7 linked regions of the Homo sapiens genome follow. The protein of the gene in region 7 purifies or fractionates together with the protein of the main gene of each other region. This does not show direct contact. Each region holds a gene or a part of one and is shown on either strand. Other genes may lie near its edges. The genes, in order: RBM28, POP1, PWP2, KRR1, NVL, DDX27 and ZNF71.

Region 1 (3,500 bases), on a different chromosome or scaffold from region 7:
CTTTAATATACTCTAGTGGGGAAAGCATGTTATGGGGAATATGTAAAACAAGGAGACTGCTGAAACACAGGAACAGATACGTGGAGGTTCATTTTACTTTTTTCTCTCCACTTTTAAGATTGTATAGCTCAACATTCTCTAAAAAGCTACCGTCCTACACAGAAGTCTTTCTTTTTTTCTTTTTTGCTCAACTAACCAAGGTACAAACATGGCTACGACCTGGCAGAACCATGCCATACCAAAGCTGTATGTCCTGCAGAACTCACCTGCTCGGACGATAATTGCTGCTTCTCCTGCTTCCACTGGTTTATCTGTGGCTTTGGCTTTTTGGGATGGACGGGCTTCACTTTGCCTTTGTCCCGCAACCTGAAATAACATGGCTGAGTGTCACCTTGAGTCCTTCTTCTAATTTGACACCCCTAGGTTCTCTTTGTACACTGGCCCTTCCCAAGCCCATGATAAGTGAAGTCATTCTAAAAAGGGATACTGCAACAGACCCTCTGAAAGCTCAACATTTGTATACTTAGGACTGCTTGATGCCAGGAGTTTGAGACCAGCCTATGCAACATAGCAATCCCCCGTCTCTACTACAACGAAATTAAAAAGTCCCAGCTACTCAGGAGGCTGAGGAAGGTGGATTGAGTCCAGGAGTTGAGGTTACAGTGCGCTATGATCATGCCACTGCACTCTAGCCTGGGCAACAGAGCAAGACCCTGTGACATGGTTTGGATCTGTGTCCTTGCTCAAATCTCACGTTGAATTGTAATCCCCAGTGTTGAAGGCTGGGCCTGGTGGGAGGTGACTGGATCATGGGGATGACTCCTTCATGAATGGTTTAGCGCCATCCCCTCAGTGCTGTTCTCGTGACGGTGAATGAGTTACCACAAGATCTGGTTGTTTAAAACACTCCCCCCTGCTCCTGGCCATGTGATGTGCCAGCTCCCACTTCACCTTCCACTATGATTAAGTTTCCTGAGGCCTCCCTAGAAGATGAGCAGCTGCTGTCATGCTTCCTGTACAGCCTGTGGAACCATGAGCCAATTAAGCCTCTTTTCTTTTCTTTTTTTTTTTTGAGACGGAGTCTCGCTCTTTCGCCCAGGCCAGAGTGCAGTGGCGTGATCTCGGCTCACTGCAAGCTCCGCCTCCCGGGTTCACGCCATTCTCCTGCCTCAGCCTCCCCAGTAGCTGGGACTACAGGCGCCCGCCACCGCACCCAGCTAATTTTTTGTATTTTTAGTAGAGACGGGGTTTCAGCATGTTAACCAGGATGGTCTCGATCTCCTGACCTCGTGATCCACCCGCCTCGGCCTCCCAAAGTGCTGGGATTACAGGCGTGAGCCACCGCGCCCAGCCAAGCCTCTTTTCTTTATAAATTACCCAGTCTCAGGTATTTCTTTATAGCAGTGGAAGAACTGAATAATACACTGTCTCTAAAAATAAAATAAATAAATAAATAAAACCCCATGGATATCTCAAAAACCTTCATTTATTTAACAAATATTTTGTAAAGATTTACTTTTGTAGAGCACTAATCTGCTGTCCCAAACAGAAACTACAACTGAACCTCAAGTATGTGGTCTCAGCTGGCAGAGATGGCCATCTGGACAAGAGGAAGCTCTTCAAAAGAGGAGAAAAGGGGCACAAAAGCCTGCCCTAGGAGGCCCCTCTGCCATTGATCTAAGAGTGACATCTCTGATGGTGTTGAAGACTCGCGTGTTAACCCCATGTGTGGGAATACATAGCACCAAACATCCTTTTCAACCAAACAAATGCCACAAAGAGAAAATAACTCAGCAAAAACAAACCCGCTTAGAACCCACCCACTGTTCTGTGCTTCTGCCCTCCTGCATCTCACCTGATTTTGGGGCCTCGGTGTGAGGGGAGCGCCAGGACCTTTCTTCTCTTCTTTCCATCAGGCAGCTCCACCTGCTCCACTTCAGCCTTGGTCTGGAACCCGGTCCATGAGGTAGAGCCCGCCTTTCTCTTCTGCTCTGGGGGCACCTTGCTTTGTTCCTCTGTGTGGTGTTGAGCTGCCTTCTGTTGCTGGTCTTTTGCAGGCTCTGGTTGCCCCTTCTGAGGCTCACCAGTTGCAGGCTTGGATCTCATTTTTTGCTGCATAAAACAAGAAAATGCCATCTGGTTTCTGGATGAGCTTTGTTTGCTGCAAATACTCAGCAGAAGATGAGCTTTATGTGAGCTAGATGAAAGAAGAGGAATTCTTCCCCCACACAATTGGAGACTAGAGGAAAGTGAATACATGTAGATCACAAGCCCTGCCACAGTAACAGATGGTTACTGGGTGGGGGGCACAAAATAACCATTCCCCTTCCCATAACACAGAAATAAGGGAGAGTGCATGCCCAAAATTCAAAAGTCAGTAGGTGGGACAATTATCAAAGGTGTAACCTATGTAGAAGGAGAATACAAGAAGAAAGCAAGCAACAGAAAAGATAATGAAGTAATAAGGGCTGAGAATTTTTCAAAACTAATGACAGTCACTAAACCACAGATCTAGGAACTCAGAGAAGACCAAATAAGATAAATACTAAACAATTTACAACCAGTCATATCATAGACAAACTGCAGAAAATCAAAGATAAAATCTTGAAAGAAGCCAGACAGGGGAAAAATTTTACCTATAGAGGAACAAGGATGAGATTACATCAAATCTCTCTCTCTTTTGTTTTTAATAGGCACCCTCCCAAACCAGAGTAGATTGAGAGAGATTTCCAAGACTTCTCTTCAGAAACCATGTAAGCAAGAAGGGAGTGAAGTGAGATATTTAATATTTAAATTTTTAAAAGAAAAAAAAATCACCAACCTACAATCCTGTATCCGATAAACTTATCCTTCAAAAGTGAAGGAAAAGACTTACTCAGACAAAAGAAAATGGAGAGAATTTGTTGCCAGTAGACCTGTCTGCAAGAAATGCGAAATAATCTCTTCAGAGAGAAGAAAAATGACATAGGTCAGAAACTGATCGTTTTCAAGAAAGGAAGAACATCAGGAATGGAATAAATGAAGTAAAGACGACAAGAAAAAGATGCTGTGGGAAGGAAGGCATCAAGGAAGTTATAGAAGTATTTGCACTGAAGTGGAAGAAACAGAAGATTCAAGTGAAATTAATGTAATGATAAGTGTGTGTTGTTCTTCCCTTTCACCTTAGAAATCTAGATAGGTACAACGATACAATGAACATTTATTATATGCCTAGTGTGTGCCAGTCTGTTTCCAGGATACAAAAAAATAGTGTCTACCCTTCAGGACTCACAGCCAGGTGGAGATAAGAGATGCATTCACAAATAAACCAAAGTAAAAAAAACTACACAGCTTAAGGAAGTTCATGAAAATCAAGTAAAGAGGGCCTTATATCTTTTGAGAGAGGTGGAGGCATGCAACTTGAAAGAGATCATTTGATCTGCATATGCAAAGTGAGTAGAGGCATTTTTACACAGAAAGAACAGTATGAATATAAATCCAGGCAACAAATAAAGTAATTT
Region 2 (3,500 bases), on a different chromosome or scaffold from region 7:
TGAACCCTGTTCAGGGTACACAGTTGATTCTCAAATATCTGTTATTGATGAACGACTGTTAGATTAATCTATAGTGAATAAAACTTGACATGATCAACAAGACCTGCACGACCTGGTTCCTACTCTTTTCTCTAGGCTAACCTTGCCCTGATGTTGCCTTGTTCTCCTTCTCTTCTTCTCTGTCACACAGAATTGATTCCAGTTCTTCACTCTCACCTGGCTTCCTTCTGCCTTCCCCCTCTCCTCCCATCTTATCCCTTAGAGCTCAGCTCAAACAGCACTTCTGGGGGACGCCTTCCAGTTAGGTTAGAAATGCTCATCATACTGTATGCTTTTCCCTTACAACCACATATCTGGTAAATCGTTTGATTAATGTCAGTCACCCCCCTAACTTTAGGCTGCCTGATCTCCAGCATCTGGCAAAGGACCCGGGCTTCATGCTCAGGAATTATTTTTAAAATGAATAATCACATAAACGGGGCTTGGCACATCATAAACTATTCTAAAGGCCTCTATGGAAAAGGATCAAACAAAAATAACAAAAAAAGCCCACTGGAAAAGCTCACCTGCAGGAGGCACCGGTTCGTCATGGCTCGATAGCAGGCTCTGTGGCTCTTGACTGTTGGCCTCTCCCCAAGGCAGTAGCCCCACTTCTTGACCATATGAAACCGCTTGGCGTGCCAGATGTGAGTTTCTAACCAAATGTTCTTCTTTTGTCTACGGTTAAATTCTAGCGTCCGGTTCATGTGACATCTTCGAGCTTTATGGCATTTATTTTTTGAATGTTCTTTTTTCTGATGTACGGCTTTCTCCGCCTATAGTTTCAAGTAGAGGGACATATCCCAGTTTGTAAGAATCTCAAAACAGAGTTAACGGTCAGGAATGCAAACAAATAACTTTAGATTAAGTGGAATATTTTATAGATCCCATTAGTTTGCTTAAATTGTTAACTTAGTTTCTTCAATGTAAGTAGAGAAGGAAGACAATGGAAAGAGTGAATGTTTTAGAGCTAGGAGACCTAGGAAGGAGGCACAGTTCCATCACTCACTAACTAGGCAAGTTTCATGGAATATGAAGATCAGAATACTTATAAAATGTTCAACACAGTAACACAAGCTTAATATGGCTATTAGTATTAGAGGGCAAGAAAGAAGAAATCAAATGCTAGCTTCTTGTTGTCATTTTAACCTGTAGAATTGTAACTAAAACCAAAAACTTAAGACCAAAAATAATACAAGTGAGGAAAACCCATACATTTCATCTCAGTTAAGCTACAGACATACACATGCTGAATGCTATCACTGGGAAACAGATTTTATATTAAATCTAGAAAGTATAAAATTCCTTGTTAGTTTTCCCTCTTGAACTCAAACCCCACCACCAGCATAGCAATGGTACATAGAAGGCTGCTCAATAAATAGGTTTTAAACCAATTAGTAAAGACATGGGCTTAATCTTAGAATGTTCAAGTCTAGAATTCTGGTGAAGCCAAAACACAATTAGACTTGTACAAAAATTAAAACCCAGTTCAAGTTTTCAACTTCGAAAAAGTCAGAAAGCAAATGCTAAGCATTGACATTGCTTTTTTTTAACCTTCCTACCCCAAGCTGGGCACACCCTAGAAACACAGATCCAAAACCACTCGGTAAGAGGGTCAGAGTTTTTTTTTAACATCTGGGAAGGGAACATCAACTATTCAACACCCTTACAAGAGAGGAGTATCAAATCCTATATTTCAAAGCACCCATAATAGCCAATTGCCTGTGAATTTCGTTTGAAGGGAAGAAGTTTGGATAATGATTAAATCAAATATATGCAAAACAAAAACAAAAACCATAAGGGTGATGTTTTCTGAGTTTTTTTTTTCTTTTTAGACAAGGTCTCACTGTCACCCAGGCTGGAGTACAGTAGCATGATCACAGCTCATTGCAGCCTCAACCTCCCCTGGCTCAGGGTACCCTCCCATCTCAGTTTCCAAGTAGCTGGGACTACAGGCACACATGTACCATCACGCCCAGCTAATTTGCGGATTTTTTTGTAGAGACAAGGTTAGGCCATATTGCCCAGGCTGGTCTTGAACTCCTGGGCTCAAGCAATCTGACCACCTCAGCCTCTCAAAGTGCTGAGATTACAGGCGTGAGCCACCATGCCCAGCCTTGGTTTTCATTTTTAATAAATTCTATTAGGTCAATACTTCTCAATTTCTTCTAGGAGCTACTAATCTAAACATTTACACTAAGTGGAACTCCTACCTCTTTCTGGGCAATCTCCTGTAACCGTCTGGGAAGGCGTTTGACGTTGTGGCTCATGGCTCTTCGTCGCATGTGCCGTGGCAGAGTCTGAAAAACCAGTGAATTCGAAGACTTCTGGGTCACAGCTTTTAACATAGCACTGATTTCAGCAGCTCGTGCTTGAGCAAAAGTAGAAGCTGTTGAAGGAGATGACAAAGTCATTAAACACCAATCTTGAATTAACATTGGAGAATAAACAGGCTGCTGGGGAAACTTAACTGAATTCCTCCACCAAGAAGGCGTAAAGAGAGACCAGAAAGCATATCTAAGGTATAGGTACAAGGTACAAGGAATATAGGGTTTAATTGTGGTAGTGTGGATGGGGATCATAGGGTGAAGAACAGAAGAGGATGGAAAGGGCCTGGAGACAGGCCCTTTAAATAAAGGTTTGGTTGCCATTTGTGTGTACTCAATTTTCCATCCTTGGAGAATGCTGTGCTGAGTGTGGATGGCATATTTAAAACAAGAGGGGCACGGGGGCTAAGACAAAGAGGAACAGTTCACAAAGACTTGTAAGAAGAAGAGTAAGAGACAGGGAGAGAAACTGAAGAAGGGAGAGCCATCAAGCCCAAGGAAGCTCTGGCCAAAGTCCAGGCTAGAGGCGAGAAGGGTCTAAAGTAGGAGGAGGAGAGGAGAGGTAGGGGAGGCAGAGCCAGGACCACAAGGAGGGCAGTTTGTTGCTGCACTAGACACGAGAGTTCAAAATACAAGCAAACTGCACCTCTTTATGAGTACCCACCAGTTATATACTTGGGGATCTCCTGAGACGTGCCCTCGGGACCTGCTTTCCATCCTCCCTTTTTTCTAAACATCCCTTTGGAGGAAGACTGCTCATTCACTTCAGGGTCAGGCAGAGAATGGGGGTTGACTCTGGTTTGCCGCTGTCGTGAAGTTCCAGGATGAGGCTCTAGTATATTTTCAAAAAGAAACATGTCACCTTTATCAGAGATAAACATTATAGTGGAGAACTAATATTTGTTGGGTGGCAACATTGACCATGTTTTTAATCCTATAGTCACCCTGTAAGGTGGCTATTACTACTTATTTTTAAAGAGGAATCTTACGTAGGAAGGTGAATTAACTTGCTCGAGGTCACAAAGCTAGTAGGTAGCACACAAGGTAATCATGTCAGGATGACATATAAAGGACCTTGGATATAACAGATACAGGTGAAATTTTCTCCTATAAACGGTGCAACATGAATTTCAA
Region 3 (3,500 bases), on a different chromosome or scaffold from region 7:
GAGCTCACCAAGACAGGCCAATCCCAGCCCCAGACTCCAAAGCATCCCCAAGAGGTCAGGGAGAGGCTCTGTGCCCCTGACCCCAAGGATATGCACAGGTCACAAGGCAGAGCCCCCGCTAGACAGCAGGAGCACCCTGCTCTGTCAGCCTGCTTCCCCAGGACGGAGGCCCTGGTGGTAAGGCAGGCAGGTCTTGAGCCCCCACAAGACAGCAGGATACAACATAACCCTTTTTAATCTGAAGTGTAGACTTCATCCTCACGTTAGAAAACTCCATCTTTTTTTTAATCCCTAAGTTCTTTATCAAACCTTTATGTTAAAGATATAAATAAGTCTCATACAAAGTTCATGTGAATACCTCTCTGAGACGCATTTTCAACATTCATCACCGTTCACACGGCCCCGCTCCTGGGGCCAGGTGCCAGTGCGTGCCGGCCCCTGGCGTGACCCGTCGGCTCGCTGTCCTGATGGGCTACATGTGTGCACAGGAAAAGCAAGTCACTACCACTAGTGACAGTATTTCAGCTGTTCTCTGGACCCCTCCTCTTTGCTGGCCCAGGTGGCACAAGGGTCCCATCTCCCTGGCAGGTCTTAGCCGGCACAATCCAACGCTGCAACCGGCTGGCTCTAGGCCAGCATCTCTTCTTCTGAGTCTCTGCCTCCTCCTCCAAGCAGATGCAGGCTGTCATCTTCAGATGCTTCTGCCTCCTCCTCACTTCCCAGCGGGTCTAGGGAGCGTTTTGTGCCCCGCTGCTTGGAAACTGCTAGTGCGTACTGCATGTTATAGTGGTTCCAGCTACAGCTGTCAATCACACAGGGATGGTCAATGCCAGCAACGCCCAGGCCCTGGCCTGTCCTGCACCCAACCACCTCCTCTGTGACCCCTGAGAAAAGCAGCAGGGGCTGGACATGCCGGTTCCTCCACCCCAGCAGCCATTTTTTTCCTCTTTTCCCTGCCCCAACAATCTGGTTCTGCCCCATCCAGCCCTGGGGCAGCAAAGGCCTTCAAGGACCCAAGGACCCAACTGTAACATCCCATCCCTTTGGGGTCATCCTGGCAGCTCAGCCCTTCCGCTGGGCCCAATCTAGATGGCTTCACCAGCAAGTTCCACCAAACACTTAGGAAGAGACCGCTGCAGAGCTATGTGGTGTTGTGGAGCGAGAGGGGAGGAAGGCACGCTCTGAATCAGTTAATTTTCTGAGTTAATGGAATAAAGGAGAAAAGTGATGCCACCATCACTTTACATAGGAAAGGAGAACTGAAAGATAAATGGATGAGAAAGGAAGGAAGCGCCCCATCGCATCTGCAGGGCACAGGACCCTCTGTGCAGGACTCTTCCTGACAGCCAATGGCAACCCTACAGATTGGCAGTGAACGCCTAGACAGGAGGTCCAAGGAACAATGCACTTACGTGAACTCTAAAAACATCCCATAAGAGGGAATAAATCTAAAGGAGCTGGGCCGGGTATGGTGGCTCATACCTATAATCCCAGCACTTTGTTTGAGAGGCAGAGGCAGGCAGATCACCTGAGGTCAGGAGTTTCAGACCAGCCTGGCCAACAAGGTGAAACCCTGTCTCTACTAAAAATACAAAAATTAGCTGGGGGTGGTGGCGTGTGCCTGTAACCACAGCTACTTGGGAGGCTGAGGCAGGAGAATTGCTTGAACCTGGGAGGCAGAGGTTGCAATGTGCCGAGATCACGCCACTGCACTCCAGCCTAAGCAACAGAGCGAGACTTCATCTCAAATAATAATAATAATAATAATGAATTAAAAAATAAATAAATACATAAATAAGGGAGCTAGACAACCCTCCTCCCCTACAGAGCTCTGTGAAAAGTCCAGGACATCTCAGCCGAGGGAAGGCCTGGCACCAAAACTGTGGATCAGGGCACATCCCAGCCTTCTGTAGGGCACCCAGAACACGAGGGGAGGACAGGCTCGACCTGGACTCCAGGACTCTTTCCAAAGACTGAGTGACACTTCAAGGACAGACAGGAGGACCACATGAACCCACAAGGCCCAAACTCAGGCTCTGCCCCTGAACCCTGGACAGAGCAACTCGCAAACAGGACAGAGAACAGACCGTTCAGAAACGCAGCTGGGAAACCCGGCAACTGATTGGCAACAGAGGGTGATATCCCTCACATGGCTACTCTGAGGCCTGCCTAGTCCCGGCTCTGCAGGACCTTTAGGGAAGGTGAATTGGTAGGGACAAAAAAGGCACAAACCACAAAGAAATGACAGGAGAAGAGGCGGGCACCCCTGCAGAGTGAGCACTGCGGAGGGCCAGGCCCTGTCCTAGGCCCGCGGATGAATCCTCGCAGCAGCAGCAACAGCACCCTTTTCTAGGGGAGCCACAGCTCAGGGCAGCCACACCTCCAGGACTCCAGGCTGCCTGGCCTCACAGTCCTGTGACCACCCCCACTGCCTGTGCAAGTGACCTGCAAATTCAGGAAAGGCTGCCTGGTCCTACGAATGCGGCAATCCCTCCAAGAGCCTGGAGGATTCCGGCCGCACCTGGAGCGCGCCACCTGCAGCCTGTCTGCCTGCCACAGTGCTCACTGCTTTCCATTCAGCGCCAGGCCATTTCCCAAGCTGCTCAACCACGGGGTGGCCGGGCAGGTGCAGTTCACCCGCAGGTGAGAAGACAAGCCTCCAGCACTGGTTCCTTTTGTCCTCAAATCAGATGACACAAGGAGCACTCCACAGTGTGGACCAGCAGGGGACCGTGCACCCCACCCACCCCCAGGCCCTGCACCCACACGTACAGTTTCGACAGGTCGTCCAGGTGCCGCTGGATGCTCTTCTGGAGGAACTGAATGACAGGCAGCAGCGTCCCGGCTCTGAAAGGGAGACTCCCTAAGCGTGCGGGGCTCACCCCGTGGTACAGTGGGCTCACTTCATGCTGCATTGGCATGTCAAAGTTCCCTTTTATCCAGCAGGACAAGCTGGTCCAGTGACCTGAGCCACCGATGAACTGCGGGGGAGACCCTCTACCTGGACTTCAGCTTCTGTCCGTGCAACATGAGCAGTTTGTGAGTCCAGAGGAGGTAGAATTCCAGGTGGCGAGACACTTCAAAGGAGGAAGCTAAAAACTCCAGCACTTTCTCCACATACAGTTCAGGAAGGGAGGAGGTGACCACTTCAACTGCAAAAGGAGAAAAAATCATGCTTATTCTGCCACCAACTCAAACCAGGGGAAGAGAGGATGACCCCGGCGCCCGACACCGAAGCCCCAACTCACTCTCGCCCCTGGGCACCGCCTCCAGGGCCTCCTGCACCAGTTTGCTCTCGTTGAGCCGGAGGGCCATGAGGATGGCCCTGGTGAAGTCCTGCTGGCGCAGTGCCTCGCGCACCCTCCCGGGGGTGACGCTGGTGTCCAGCTCAAACGGGTCAAAGAGCACGCGGGTGTCCAGGGAGTAGATGAGGAGTCCCTCCGTGGTGGTGGCCGCCCAGCAGCGCCCTGGGAAATTAAGCAGTGCTTTCCTAAAAATTT
Region 4 (3,500 bases), on a different chromosome or scaffold from region 7:
TGAATAATATAAAAAGCAGGGGAAAAGGAAATGCAAGGAGTATTGGAAGGTTTGTGAATATGTGCATAGGATGTTCATAAAGTGTCCAAAAGACAGTTAAAATGTGATGTGTATGTCCAAAAGACAGTTAAAATGTGATGTGTAAATTTTTTCCTTTCTGTAGATGAATCAGAACTCCTTACGGTTCCTGATGGTTGGAAGGAACCAGCTTTTTCCAAAGAGGACAATCCCAGAGGACTTTTGGAGGAGAGCAGTTTCGCAACTTTGTTCCCAAAATACAGGGAAGCTTACTTGAAAGAGTGTTGGCCATTGGTGCAGAAAGCCTTAAATGAACATGTATGTGTATCTTATATCAATACATTTATTTGAGACTTTGCTCTTGCTTATGCCTTTAAATGTATGTATGCTAATGCTTTTTTTTTTTTTTTAATGGTGCTAACATAGCTGGTTACTTTGGTTCCTTTGGTATTCTAAACTATTTAAGTAAGTTTTCTTCTTACCTAATGTTCATTTGTTTTAATTTTATGAGTAATAAATTACTTTGAAAAATTTACATACCTTTAATATTTTAGGAGCTTCACAACTGTCTGAAATTCACCTGTGAAGTCCCAATTTCAGTATGCCTGCTCCAGGCCATGATAGTTGTCATGTATCTGTCCCAGTCTGAGCTGAGTCATGTTTCTAATTGATTACCTTTCATCTTAAATGGAAGATGTGGATGTGTCCAACTTTTCCTTGTTTATTGCTGATGCTATGCCCCTAGATAACTGCATTTTTTTTTTCAAACTGGGGATTGAAACCCATTAGTGTATTGAGAAGTCAATTTAATGGCTATAATGAGCCTTTAGAAAATGACATATCACATGGTAAAAGTATCTTTTTTTGATATTGGCTTTGTTTGTGTGTGTGTGTATATGTATTAGGTTGTGATATAAAATGTGTTTCTAACTGTGGGACTGCTCTGGAGTTGGTTGTGCCATTGTGGGTGAAGGTGGCTCAGCAAGCTGCAGGTTGTGTTTTGTAGCTGCATCTGGGATTGAGCTCATTTTTTTTTTGTAAACTCATAGAGACTCAACCATATGTTGAATTGTTCAGCACTTAACTATGTTGAAATATTCTTGAGATTATGCTCACAAGTGAGAAAATAGCATTTTAATTCGCTTTGTTGAAATCTGTTTTTTCCTGTTGAAAGTTAATGCTTAAGTTTTCTAATCATTGCTTTTTTCTGAAACTATGATAATTTGCTTTTACTTTGTATTTAGTCCCCTAATTAGCTCGAAAAAAGTTTGAAAGGGAAAGTCAATTCTTACCCAATGGAGCAGATGGTAGACTGGAGCTGGGTCCAGAATAGGGAAGCTGTACAGCTTTACATTTTTACCTTAGTCAGATTTTAAGTATGACCTCATTTGTTTGATTTATAATTTTTAAATTAGAGGCAATCTATATTCCAGTGGGTACAAAGTATTCTAAAACCAAGGGTAAATGGTTTCAATTGCTCCAGTTTCTTATAGTCTGTAAAGTGTGAAAGTAATTGAGTATTCATTATTTATACTTAACTACCTAGCTTCTTCAGGGAAGTAATTGATAGGAATTGAGAGGTGACAGAAATTAATAGGTTGGTTAGGAGAGGCTTTATAATTATCTAAAAAAACTCATTTTTAGACAACTGCTTGTTTGCTCTTTCCTTCTGTAGCATGTTAATGCAACCCTGGACCTGATCGAAGGCAGCATGACTGTTTGTACTACAAAGAAGACTTTTGATCCATATATCATCATTAGGGCCAGAGATCTGATAAAACTGTTAGCAAGGAGTGTTTCATTTGAACAGGTAAATCTAGAATTACAGAGACTTTGCTTTGTTTGCATCAGTGTTAACCTATAACATCCCACCATCAAGTTTTCATATTTGTGCTTAGGTAACAATAGCGTGGGCCTGGAAAATGAATGTAATTGTAAAAAATGTTGATAATGTCTTCTTTTTTTTTTTTTTTTTGCAAAAGGCAGTACGAATTCTTCAGGATGATGTTGCATGTGACATCATTAAAATAGGTTCTTTAGTAAGGAATAAAGAGAGATTTGTAAAACGAAGACAACGGCTTATTGGTCCCAAAGGATCTACATTGAAGGTATTTTTTAATTAGTGGAAAACTTGAGTCTCTTCCTTAATACTTTTTCAGAGTAATGAATTTTAACTTGATCTCTTGATACAGGCATTGGAACTCTTAACTAATTGTTACATTATGGTTCAGGGAAACACAGTTTCAGCCATTGGACCTTTTAGTGGCTTAAAAGAGGTGAGAACTATGTATTATCTTCGATTCATTTTCAGCAGAGAACAAATAATTTGGTTATAATATAGTTTATTGGATAATGCTTTATAATTTTATTTCTTTAGAATGTGCTTTGATTTCCCATTAGTAAATACTTTTTATGTCATATAATTCAAGGGAATCATCATATCTGGACCCTAACATGTTTTGGCCAACCTTGGCAACTATGGAGACATCCATTTCTGAATTAGATGGTCTGCACACTATTACTCCTCCCACTATAAAATTTAAATGAGCATTAAGATCTTCAGTCTGTAGCATGTATGAACATGGTATAGTTACATATGTCCAAATGACGGGAAAATTGAGCAAAAATCCAGTTATTTGCAGTAGTGTATACAGCCAGTAGAGGTCACACTCTGAAAACTTTTCTTCAAGATGTAGTTTCTTTTGTTTGAATTTTAGTATAATGTTTAATAACTTTTCATGAACATTTTCTTTAACTTCTCAAATTACATGTGGTGAGGAAATCTGTGGAGCAAATGCTGTTTCTGTTAACTCCTTTTGGTACTATTACTGTCTGGATCTGGCTTGTGAGGTTGTGCTTCCTTTCCAGGGCCTTTAATAGTAATCCTATTGGCCTTTTTTGTCATAAATTGTCTGCTCTTTTCTCATGGAGCAATAATTAAGTATATTGAATACAATTCTTACAAGAGAGTCTTGAGGTATATGGTTTTATCTTATATTACAAATGAGAAAGCTGGAACAGGAAAGTGATTTTCCTGTATGCAGTGGCAGTCCTTGTATTCCAGCCCTCTTCCTCCTAAATCACATTGCTTTAGAGTGTTGTATTAGTTCTCTGTGCTACATTTTAGCAGTAATTGAGAAACTGTATTGTATTCAAGGGAGATTGACTGCCTTTATGAAAGATGGAGAAGCCACTCAGAGCAGTTGAAGGAACTACTTAATTATTTAATTACATTATTTAATTTGGTACCCATTACCTGATTTTTGCAGTATTAATCCTCTTCTCCATAGCTCATTAAAATCCTTGTGACTAATTCATTTTTCTTTGCAAATTTCAGGTTAGAAAAGTAGTCCTTGATACTATGAAGAATATTCATCCAATTTATAACATTAAAGTGAGTGGTAATTATATATAACTGTACCAGTGATTATCATACTTCTTTTAGCTACAGAAACCTTTCTTGAAATTAAATGTTTTATGAA
Region 5 (3,500 bases), on a different chromosome or scaffold from region 7:
GTAATCCCAGCTACTCGGGAGGCTGAAGCAGGAGAATAGCTTGAACTCAGGAGGCAGAGGTTGTGGTGAGCTGCGATTGTGCCATTGCATTCCAGCCTGGGCAACAAGAGTGAAACTCTGTCTCAAAAAAATAAATAAATAAATAAATAAATAAAAAGAGTTCCAGCTGTTTCATATCCTTGCCACCATTTAGTGTTGCCAATATTTTAAATTTTAGTCATTGTGGTAGGTGTGTAGTAGAATCTCACTGTGGTCAAATTAAAAAAAAATTTTTTTTTTTGAGACGGAGTCTCAATCTGTCGCCCAGGCTGGAGTGCAGTGGTGCAATCTTGGCTCACTGCAACCTCTGCCTCCCAGGTTCAAGCGATTCTTCTGCTTCAGCCTCCTGAGTAGCTGGGACTACAGGTGCGCAGTAGCTGGGACTACAGGTGCGCGCCCAGCTAATTTTTGTATTTTTAGTAGAGATGAGATTTCACTATATTGGCCAGGCTGGTCTTGAACTCCTGACTTCGTGATCTGCCCGCCTCAGCCTCCCAAAGTGCTGGGATTACAGAAGTGAGCCACCGCGTCTGGCAAATTAACATTTTAAATGTTGGGTGGCAATTCCACTCCTGTGTATTCATCCCAAAGAAATACTTGAAGTGTGTTTTTTCTTCTGTGTTTATTTGTTTGTTTTTGAGACAAGGTTTCGTTCTGTAACCGAGGCTGGAGTACAATGGTGTGATCATGGCTCAGTGTAGCCTCAACCTCCTGGGCTCAAGTAATCCTTCTGCCTCGGTCTCCTAAGTAGCTGGGACTACAGGTGCATGACACCATGCCTGGCTAAGTTTTAATTTTTTTGTAGAGACAGGGTCTCACCATGTTGCCCAGGCTGATCTTGAACTCCTGGGCTCAAGCCATTCTCCCACCTCTGCCTCCTGAGTAGCTGAGATAACAGGCATAAGCCCCTGTGCCCAGCTCCAGAGTGATTTTTTTTTAACCCTTCTCCCACCTATGGTGAAGATGTTTTTATTTCCCTGAAATGTATGGGTAAGTCCCTATGGCTTAGTTTGGGTACAGTCTAGCTCCAAGAAATACAAAGCCATTTATCAAAAAGCGTAGAGTAGGTCAAATAATACTTGAATCAGATGATTAAAATTCTGAGATTGTGGGCTGGGCGCAGTGGCTCACGCCTGTAATCCCAGCACTTTGGGAGGCCAAGGCGGGTGGATCACGAGGTCAAGAGTTTGAGACCAGCCTCACCAATATGGTGAAACCCTGTCTCTACTAAAAATACAAAAAATTAGCCAGGCATGGTGGTGCGCACCTATAGTCCCAGCTACTCAGGAGGCTGAGACAGAAGAATCGCTTGAACCCAGGAGGCAGAGGTTGCAGTGAGCCAAGATCATGCCACTACACTCCAGACTGGGTGACAGAGCGAGACTCTGTCTCAAAAAAATAAAAAAAAAATCTGAGATTGTGGAGGCAGAAGAGGTCATTCTCTTTCTGAATAAAGTTGTTAGAGAATCTAGTTAGGAAAACTGTGTTCTAGTCCCTAAGAAACATATAAAATTAAAATCTCTCAAGAACATTCTCACAAAGGCAATTATTTTGCTTGTTTTCAGATCAAAATGAACCATGTAATTTCTTTTTAGGAAGTAGAAGTAGTATACAAAACAATCTGTAAAAGAGTTTAATTCAGCCGGGCGCGGTGGCTCACGCCTGTAATCCCAGCACTTTGGGAGGCAGAGACGGGCGGATCACGAGGTCAGGAGATCGAGACCATCCTGGCTAACATGGTGAAACCCCGTCTCTACTAAAAATGCAAAAAATTAGCCGGGGATGGTGGCGGGCACCTGTAGTCCCAGCTACTTGGGAGGCTGAGGCAGGAGAATGGTGTGAACCCGGGAGGCAGAGCTTGCAGTGAGCAGAGATCGCACCACTGCACTCCAGCATGGACGACAGAGCAAGACTCCGTCTCAAAAAAAAAAAAAAAGAGTTTAATTCATGAGGTCATATCTACTGGTCTAAAATTCTAGTTTCCTTTCTCTATGCATTTAATGGCATTGCTTACCTTTTTTGATATAGATGATCTTACTTTCTTGAAAGCTTCTTCAAAATGCTTATGACTAACCTTGAGTTCACCTATGGAGTAAATGCACAAATATACACATCTCAGTATCGTATGGTAACTGACTTAGAACTTAACTTCCTTTGAAAGACTTCAAAACTTTCAAGGGGTCCACTAAAGAGATCAGTGATGAGATGGGCTCTGTTCTTTTTCAGAACAGTATTCTAGCCAGATATATTCTGCTCATCAGATTTTAATCCAAAACCACCCAAAGAGATCTGCCACTCATAAGTTGGTAACTTTTTGTAGGCCTCTTTGCATTGTTTAACTTAATGGTGATGCCTATGAACAAGAGCCAGAATTATTCAGATAATTCAAATAAATGTAACTGGAATAGAAAGTAGGATTCCATAGTATTAATATTTAAGAGTATGCAACACACAATGAGATCTTATGGAGCCATAATATCATAGAATATTTTATATATAATATATCTCAGCACTGGTTTAGAAGGGAGCTTTAGGTCGGGCGCGGTGGCTCAGGCTTGTAATCCCAGCACTTTGGGAGGCCGAGGTGGGCGGATCATGAGATCAGGAGTTCGAGACCAGCCTGACCAATATGGTGAAATCCCGTCTCTACTAAAAATACAAAAAAAATTAAGTGGGTGTGGTGGCACACGCCTGTAGTCCCAGCTACTCGGGAAGCTGAGGCAGGAGAATTGCTTGAACCAGGAGGTGGAGGTTGCAGTGAGCCGAGATCGCGGCACTGCACTCCAGCCTGGGCGACAGAGCAAGACTCAAGTTTAGAAAATAAATAAATAAATAAATAAAAATACAGACAGGGAGGCCGGGCGCAGTGGCTCACACCTGTAATCCCAGCACTTTGGGAGGCCGAGGCAGGCGGATCACGAAGTCAGGAGATCGAGACCATCCTGGCTAACATGGTGAAACCCCGTCTCTACTAAAAATACAAAAAAAAAAATTAGTCAGGTGTGGTGGCCGGCGCCTGTAATCCTAGCTACTTGGGAGGCTGAGGCAGGAGAATGGCATGAACCCGAGAGGCGGAGCTTGCAGTGAGCCAAGATCGCGCCACTGCACTCCAGCCTGAGTGAGAGCGAGACTCTGTCTCAAAAAAAATAAATAAATAAAAATAAAAATAACAAAATAAAAATAGAGACAGGGTTTTGCTCTGTCACTCAGGCTGGAGTGCAGTGGTGCAATCATAGCTCATTGCAGCCTCGAACTCCTGGGCCTCACCCTCCCAAGTAGTTAGGACTATAGGCATGCACCACCATGCCAGTCTAATTTTTAAATTTTTTATAGAGATGGCATCTTGGTTTGTTGCGCAGGCTGCTCTCAAACTCCTGGGCTCAAGCAATCCTCCTGCCGCAGCTTCCCAAAGTGCTGGGATTACAGATGTGAGTCACCACACCCAGCAGACAATTTTTTTC
Region 6 (3,500 bases), on a different chromosome or scaffold from region 7:
ACGAGTGCCAGGAGGTGTCGTCAGAGAGGGCCAGAAGGGGCAGAGCCTTGTAGGTCAATATAAGGACTCAGGCTTCTAAGAAGAGTGAGACTGGGAAGTACTGAAGGACTCAGAGAAGAAGAGGAGGGACACGATGGAACTCATTGCTTAAGAGAGTTCTCGGCCGGGCGCGGTGGCTCACGCCTGTAGTCCCAGCACTTTGGGAGGCTGAGGCGGGCGGATCACGAGGTCAGGAGATCGAGACCATCCTGGCTAACACGGTGAAACCCCATCTCTACTAAAAATACAAAAAATTAGCAGGGCGTGGCAGCGTGTGCCTGTAGTCCCAGCTGCTGGGGAGGCTGAGGCAGGAGAATGGCGTGAACCCGGGAGGTGGAGGTTGCAGTGAGCCGAGATTGTGCCACTGCACTCCAGCCTGGGCGACAGAGTGAGACTCCGTCTCAAAAAAAAAAAAAAAAAAAAGGGAGTTCTCTGGCAACTGTATGGACAAGAGTTGAGGGAGGCAAAGAGAGAAGCAGAAAGTCCAGTTAGGGGTGGCTGCAATAATCCCATGGTTGCCAAAATAAGCCACTACTGGCCAGGCACAGTGGCTCAAATCCCAGCACTCTGGGAGGTTGAGGCAAGAGGATTGCTTGATGCCAGGAATTTGAGACCATCTTGGACAACATAGCAAGACCATGCTTCTACAAAGAAAATTTTTGACAAGAAGCTGCTACCTTCAGAAGAGGGCGGGAAAGGTTCATGTCCTGGAACGAGAGGTTTTCATCGTACTGAGATGCATCTTCAAAAAATCCTCCTGCTTCCTACACCAGAAAACCAAAAGAGAGAAGAGAATTCAACAAAAAGAGCCAAGAAACCCAAACGACCTTAAACTCCTTTCGGTTTGCCAACAAGCTGCATACTGTCTTGCAGCCCCAAGCTCACCTGTCCTTTCTTCTTCTTCTTCTTCCGATCCTTTACTTTGAGTGTATCTATGGAGAAAAACTTAGCTGATGACCACGGCTCAGACTTACAAAGCACTTGCATCCTGCTGGACACTGTCCTAAGTGCCAATGCCACACTTCAGCCTCTGAGGGGTGACCATCGTCAACCTTGTTTCACAGATGAGGACACTTTGTGGCAGCATGGTGAAGTAACTTGCCTAAGGTCAGAGAGAAAGCTAACCCAGTGACTCTGGTCCAGAGACCAGGCTCTCGACCACTACACTGTATTATGATGCTTTAGCACACATTTCTGCAAGAAATACTTATTGAGGGCGGAAGCAGTGGCTCCCGCCTAAAATCCCAGCACTTTAGGAGGCCGAGGCAGGTGGATCACCTGAGGTCAGGAGTTCGGGACCAGCCTGTCCAACATGGTGAAACCCCATCTCTACTAAAAATACAAAAATTAGCCAGGTGTGTTGGCGTGTGCCTGTAGTCCCAGCTACTTGGGAGGCTGAGACAGGAGAGTTGCTTGCACCCGGGAGGCAGAGGTTGCAGTGAGCTGAAATTGTACCACTTGCACTCCAGCCTGAGTGACAGAGTAAGACTCCATCTCAAAAAAAAAAAAAGAAAGAAAGAAATACTTATTGAGCACCCACTATGTGGCTGGACCCATCTGAGTATGTCACCCCAAATGAGTTTGTATCACAGTGGCATCTGGCAGCCGCATGGGGCTAGATGGGAAAAGAGTAAACTACCTATGAAGTACAACAACCCAAACAAAATCCCAAGAGAAAAGAAAACCTAAAAGAAAGGATTCAGCGGGCACAGTGGCTCACGCCTGTAATGCCAGCACTTTTAGAGGTCAAGGCGGGAGGACTGCTCGAGCCTAGAAATTTGAGACTAGCCTGAGCAACAAAGCAAGACCCCGTCCCTACAAAAAAAAAAAATTAGCCAGGCGCAGGGGCATGCACCTGTAGGCCCAGCTACTTAGGAAGCTAAAGCAGGAGGATCACTTAAGCCAGTGAGTTCAAGCCTTCCAGTGAGGTATGATTGCACTACTGCACTCCAGCCTGTGGATGGAGTGAGACCACATCTCTTTTGTTTTGTTTTTTGAGACAGGGTCTCATTCTGTGGCCCAGGGTTAAGTTCAGTGGGACAATCTCAGCTCACTGCAACCTCTGCCTCCCAGTTTCAAGTGATTCTCGTACCTCAGCCACCTGAGTGGCTGGGATTACAGGTGCATGCCACTACACCAAGCTTATTTTTGTATTTTCAGTAGAGATGGGGTTTTACCATGTTGCCCAGGCTGGTCTCAAACTCCTGGCTTCAAGCGATACACCCACCTCAGCCTCCCAAAGTACTGGGATTACAGGCATGAGCCACTGCACCCAGCCAACATCTCTTAAAAAAAAAAAAAAAAGAAAGAAAGGAGTTCAATGTAGTAGGCAGAACAGCTTAAAGATAAACTGTGCAGAAGAGTGGAGGAAACCCTACAAAGTAAAGGAGGATGCCTTCTGATCTCCTGTCCCCATTACTGACACCTCCGCCGTAACGTCTACCTGCTTTGGTGAGGATGTTCTCATCAGCTGATGAGTAGTCAGTCTCCGAGGCTTCATCTTCTGAGCCTTCCTCATCATTCTCTTGAAGGTCTTCCTGCTCCTTTGGTTCAGAGCCTTCCTTTGCTTCTTTCTCCTTTTCCAACTTCCCAGACTTGGCTTCTTTATCCTGGGAAAAAAATTAAAGTGAGGGTGATGAGAAACTTCTAGAAATCCAGAACCTAAGTAGAGCGATAGGAAGCTCTCCGGCCTGAATGAACGGCTGTGGGGATTCTCAGTACAGATTCACAGCAAACACACAGAAGAGTGCGCCTGCCCCAGCCATGCCCCGCTCTATAAGGGCTTCCAGAGAGATGCTGGGGTCGTGGTGAGAGTAAAGAGTGGGCCCTAACAACGAAAAATAGCCACTTTTCTTCTCACCTCTGTTTTCCTTTTCTTTCGAACTTTCTCAATCTTCTCATCTAATGTAGTGGCTGCCCTCTGCAGATAAAAATAAAGAGGTGAAAAAGAAATTTTCATTGAAACATCGAATAAGAGAACAAACTCTTCATAATTAACTTGAAAAAGAAAAAATTTTGGCCTTCTCTGAAAATACATATACATATTATATATATAAAAATTTTAGGCCGGGCGCGGTGGCTCACGCCTGTAATCCCAGCACTTTGGGAGGCCGAGGTGGGTAGATCACCTGAGGTCAGGAGTTCGAGACCAGCCTCAACATGGAGAAACCCTGTCTCTACTAAAAAAATACAAAATTAGCCGGGTGTGGTGGTGCATGCCTGTAATCCCAGCTACTCGGGAGGCTGAGGCAAGAGAATTGCTTGAACCTGGGAGGCGGAGGTGGCAGTGAGCCGAGATCACGCCATTGCACTCCAGCCTGGGCAACAAGAGCAAAACTCCGTCTCAAAAAAAAAAATTTTTTTAATCCTCTCCAGACGATCTTGAAAATGCAGTGCTGGTAAGGCTGAGCACAGTGGCTCATGCCTGTAATCCCAGCTACTCAAGAGGCTGAGGCAGGAGA
Region 7 (2,842 bases):
TCAGGTGCATGTTCTGGCTGAAGGCTCGCCCGCACTCGGGGCACACGTACGGCTTCTCCCCGGTGTGCGTGCGCTGGTGCACGATGAGGTGCATGTTCTGGCTGAAGGCCTTGCCGCAGTCCCCGCACGCGTAGGGCTTCTCCCCCGTGTGGATCCGCTCGTGCTGGGTGAGAGAGGAAGTCTTCCGGAAGGCCTTGCCACACACGTCGCACACATACGGCTTCTCGCCCGTGTGCGTGCGCTGGTGCACAGTGAGGTTCATGCGCTGGCTGAAGGCCTTGCCGCAGTCCCCGCAGGCATAGGGCTTCTCGCCCGTGTGCACCCGCTGGTGGATGGTGAGGGACGAGCGCTCGATGAAGTGCTTCCCACAGGTGTCACACTCAAACGGCTTTTCTCCCGTGTGGATCCTTTGGTGCTTTATCAGGGACGAGCTTCGGCTAAAGGCCTTGCCACACTCGCTGCAGTCGTAGGTTTTCTTCTCCTCGCAGGGCATGGGGGGCTTACTGAGGTCTGAAGTGCTGGAGAAGTTCTTGCCACGCCTTACGGGTGGACAGGCCCCCTTTTCTGTGGGGTCGTCCAGCCGTGGTGGGACCAGGACACAGCCTTGGTTGGCAAATGCCTTCAGTTCATGACATGCGGGTACTGAGCCCCCTAAGAGTTTGTTCCCCTGGGGAATTCCCAATGGCTCCCACTCTGCACCTGCATCTCCCCGCGGCCTCTCTGGCCAGCTGCCTGGTTCCCACACTCCTTCTGAGCCAGGACCCCTGGCACCATTCCTCGTGGGTCCCCCCGTGGCCTCCCCAACAACGGAGAGCTTGTCTTCCGAAATGTCATTCTTTGGATCCAACTCTTTCATTTCAGGTCTAGTCTCCCAGTCTGAAAAAAACAAAAACAGAAGATGCAAATACATGTAGTTAAAGATGCTGGGAGTGAGGAAGCTCCACAGCAGGAAGGAGCAAATGAAACCGACCCCAATGAGGCCCAAGGCACAGAGCGAGTTAGCAAAGAAGAACCTTGGATCAGAGAGGGAGGGAGGAGGGAGGCATGGAACTGAGGCCAATGTGGTTTATGAAGCAGAGTCAACACAGGAGGTGAACAGGGAGAGCAAATGTCCCTTCAGAAGAGGGATGACAGGCACTCCTGGAGAGAAACTGCAGTAGTGAGCTGGGCTTGCAGGGAGCAAAGGGCAGGCTCTGCAAACCTGAGTAGGAATGACTGCAGCCGGCTACTGACTTGCAGGGCCTCCTCACTTCATCCTGCAGATCCACAACCAGTCGTGCTCCTCAAGCAACAGTTTTTATCAGAAATAATAAGATGGCCAGGCACAGTGGCTCATGCCTGTAATCCCAACACTTTGGGAGGCTGAGGCAAGGATTGCTTGAGACCAGCCTGGGCAACATAGTGAGACCCCCCACCCCCGCCTCTACTAAATTTTTTTTTAAAAATTAGCCAGGCATGGTGGCACATGCCTATTGTCCCAGCTACTTGAGAGGCTGAGGTGGGAGGATCACTTGAGCCCAGGAATTCGAGGTTGCAGTGAGCTATGATCACGTCACTGCACTCCAGCATGGGTGACAGGGTGAGACCCTGTCTCTTAAAAAATAAATAAATAAATAAATATTGAAAAAAGAAGAAAAAGAATAAAGAAATAATAAATAGCTAGCATTTATATGGCATGTGTTGGTTATTCTCTACTCCTTCGACCCACTTTCTATTCTCCACCCTTCTCTGACCTGCCCTGTGCTCAGGATGCTGACTTTGCCCACTGGCTTCCTGTGTGTTTGGCCAAAGGCAGGAAACTGGAAGTGAAATGAGAGAAAAATCGGGCATTTCTCCTGCCCCTTTGCCACTTCTCTGGTATGGCTGCCCCAGGGTTGCTGGCTGCAAGATCCTCTCCCCTGGCTGGGGCTCCGGCTCCCGCTAGCTCATCACGCACCTGCCCTGGCTGGCCCCAGCCCTCCCGCACCCCAGCCCTCTCATCAGCCTCAGCACTAAGTGTTCATACACACAGGACCGCTCACTTGAGCCCACAATAATCACATGACTTGGGGTCTCACAATTGCTTCTGTTGCTACGTCACACGCTGCCTAGTTCTTGGGTGGCAGGCATTCCGTGGAGCTTGGGTTCAGACCCTCTTTCTCTGCTCATCCACCCTCCCTGGCTAAATACCTCTGTGCCCACAGCTTCAATCACCTTCCACGTGTATCCTGTTCATTTCTAAACCTCGATTTCTAGCCTAGGTGGAGTCTAGACTCTGCATCAGGGGACTCATTCCCAGCATTTAAAAGTTGCTGTCCATGTGGCTGCTAGCTCATAAAAAACATGAAGATATGGCCACGTGGAGCCTCATTCTTATGGGCAACAAGACATTGCATGGGGCAGCAGCTGTCCCCCTCCTCCACATAAATGATCCACCTGGTAGTTCCTGAGGCCACCTGAGTTTGAGACCACTCTCCTGAATCACACTGGACCTTCAAAGCCACACAAAGTGAGTCTGGATCTAAACGTTATCCACAGGCTGATGCTGCTCAAACATACACCTTCAGCCCAGACCTGCTTTCTGGGCTATGTCCAAACTGTTCAAAAAAGCCCAGCATCTCAACTGGATAGCCCAAGCCTAACACATCCGATACGAAACTTGGGATTTCAGACTTTCCCCATGAAAAACATTTTTTAAAAAAGCAAAGCCCATCAAAGAGACTTAGTAAAATAAATCAGACATGAAAGGATGGATGCCATGTGATTCCACTCATCTGCGGTACCTGGAGGTCGGATTCCCAGAGACAGACGGTAGAACAGAGGATGCCGGGGGCTGAGGAGTGGGTGGGAGTTGGTGTTTAAT

What was found.
Region 1: the proteins of ZNF71 (region 7) and RBM28 purify together in Homo sapiens (affinity purification with mass spectrometry; one large-scale study listed by BioGRID and IntAct). This does not show direct contact.
Region 2: the proteins of ZNF71 (region 7) and POP1 purify together in Homo sapiens (affinity purification with mass spectrometry; one large-scale study listed by BioGRID and IntAct). This does not show direct contact.
Region 3: the proteins of ZNF71 (region 7) and PWP2 purify together in Homo sapiens (affinity purification with mass spectrometry; 2 studies listed by BioGRID and IntAct, with this or other methods). This does not show direct contact.
Region 4: the proteins of ZNF71 (region 7) and KRR1 purify together in Homo sapiens (affinity purification with mass spectrometry; one large-scale study listed by BioGRID and IntAct). This does not show direct contact.
Region 5: the proteins of ZNF71 (region 7) and NVL purify together in Homo sapiens (affinity purification with mass spectrometry; 2 studies listed by BioGRID and IntAct, with this or other methods). This does not show direct contact.
Region 6: the proteins of ZNF71 (region 7) and DDX27 purify together in Homo sapiens (affinity purification with mass spectrometry; 2 studies listed by BioGRID and IntAct, with this or other methods). This does not show direct contact.

Annotation. Positions count from the first base shown.
Region 1 is NC_000007.14:128,312,909-128,316,408, forward strand, and holds part of RBM28 (RNA-binding protein 28), read right to left. Parts: intron 2,113-3,500; coding exon 1,856-2,112; intron 367-1,855; coding exon 267-366; intron 1-266. UniProt on the Homo sapiens protein: Nucleolar component of the spliceosomal ribonucleoprotein complexes.
Region 2 is NC_000008.11:98,127,293-98,130,792, reverse strand, and holds part of POP1 (ribonucleases P/MRP protein subunit POP1), read right to left. Parts: intron 3,199-3,500; coding exon 3,031-3,198; intron 2,429-3,030; coding exon 2,253-2,428; intron 816-2,252; coding exon 567-815; intron 1-566. UniProt on the Homo sapiens protein: Component of ribonuclease P, a ribonucleoprotein complex that generates mature tRNA molecules by cleaving their 5'-ends. Also a component of the MRP ribonuclease complex, which cleaves pre-rRNA sequences.
Region 3 is NC_000021.9:44,127,899-44,131,398, reverse strand, and holds the end of PWP2 (periodic tryptophan protein 2 homolog), read right to left. Parts: intron 3,468-3,500; coding exon 3,249-3,467; intron 3,153-3,248; coding exon 3,002-3,152; intron 2,848-3,001; coding exon 2,773-2,847; intron 803-2,772; coding exon 628-802; 3' UTR 218-627; downstream 1-217. UniProt on the Homo sapiens protein: Part of the small subunit (SSU) processome, first precursor of the small eukaryotic ribosomal subunit.
Region 4 is NC_000012.12:75,505,110-75,508,609, reverse strand, and holds part of KRR1 (KRR1 small subunit processome component homolog), read left to right. Parts: intron 1-163; coding exon 164-336; intron 337-1,693; coding exon 1,694-1,828; intron 1,829-2,000; coding exon 2,001-2,126; intron 2,127-2,210; coding exon 2,211-2,294; intron 2,295-3,355; coding exon 3,356-3,412; intron 3,413-3,500. UniProt on the Homo sapiens protein: Part of the small subunit (SSU) processome, first precursor of the small eukaryotic ribosomal subunit.
Region 5 is NC_000001.11:224,229,173-224,232,672, forward strand, and holds part of NVL (nuclear valosin-containing protein-like), read right to left. Parts: exon of another isoform or gene 3,476-3,500; intron 2,125-3,475; coding exon 2,054-2,124; intron 1-2,053. UniProt on the Homo sapiens protein: Participates in the assembly of the telomerase holoenzyme and effecting of telomerase activity via its interaction with TERT. Involved in both early and late stages of the pre-rRNA processing pathways.
Region 6 is NC_000020.11:49,222,416-49,225,915, reverse strand, and holds part of DDX27 (probable ATP-dependent RNA helicase DDX27), read right to left. Parts: intron 2,960-3,500; coding exon 2,900-2,959; intron 2,649-2,899; coding exon 2,483-2,648; intron 972-2,482; coding exon 925-971; intron 804-924; coding exon 717-803; intron 1-716. UniProt on the Homo sapiens protein: Probable ATP-dependent RNA helicase. Component of the nucleolar ribosomal RNA (rRNA) processing machinery that regulates 3' end formation of ribosomal 47S rRNA.
Region 7 is NC_000019.10:56,619,302-56,622,143, reverse strand, and holds part of ZNF71 (endothelial zinc finger protein induced by tumor necrosis factor alpha), read right to left. Parts: intron 877-2,842; coding exon 1-876. UniProt on the Homo sapiens protein: May be involved in transcriptional regulation.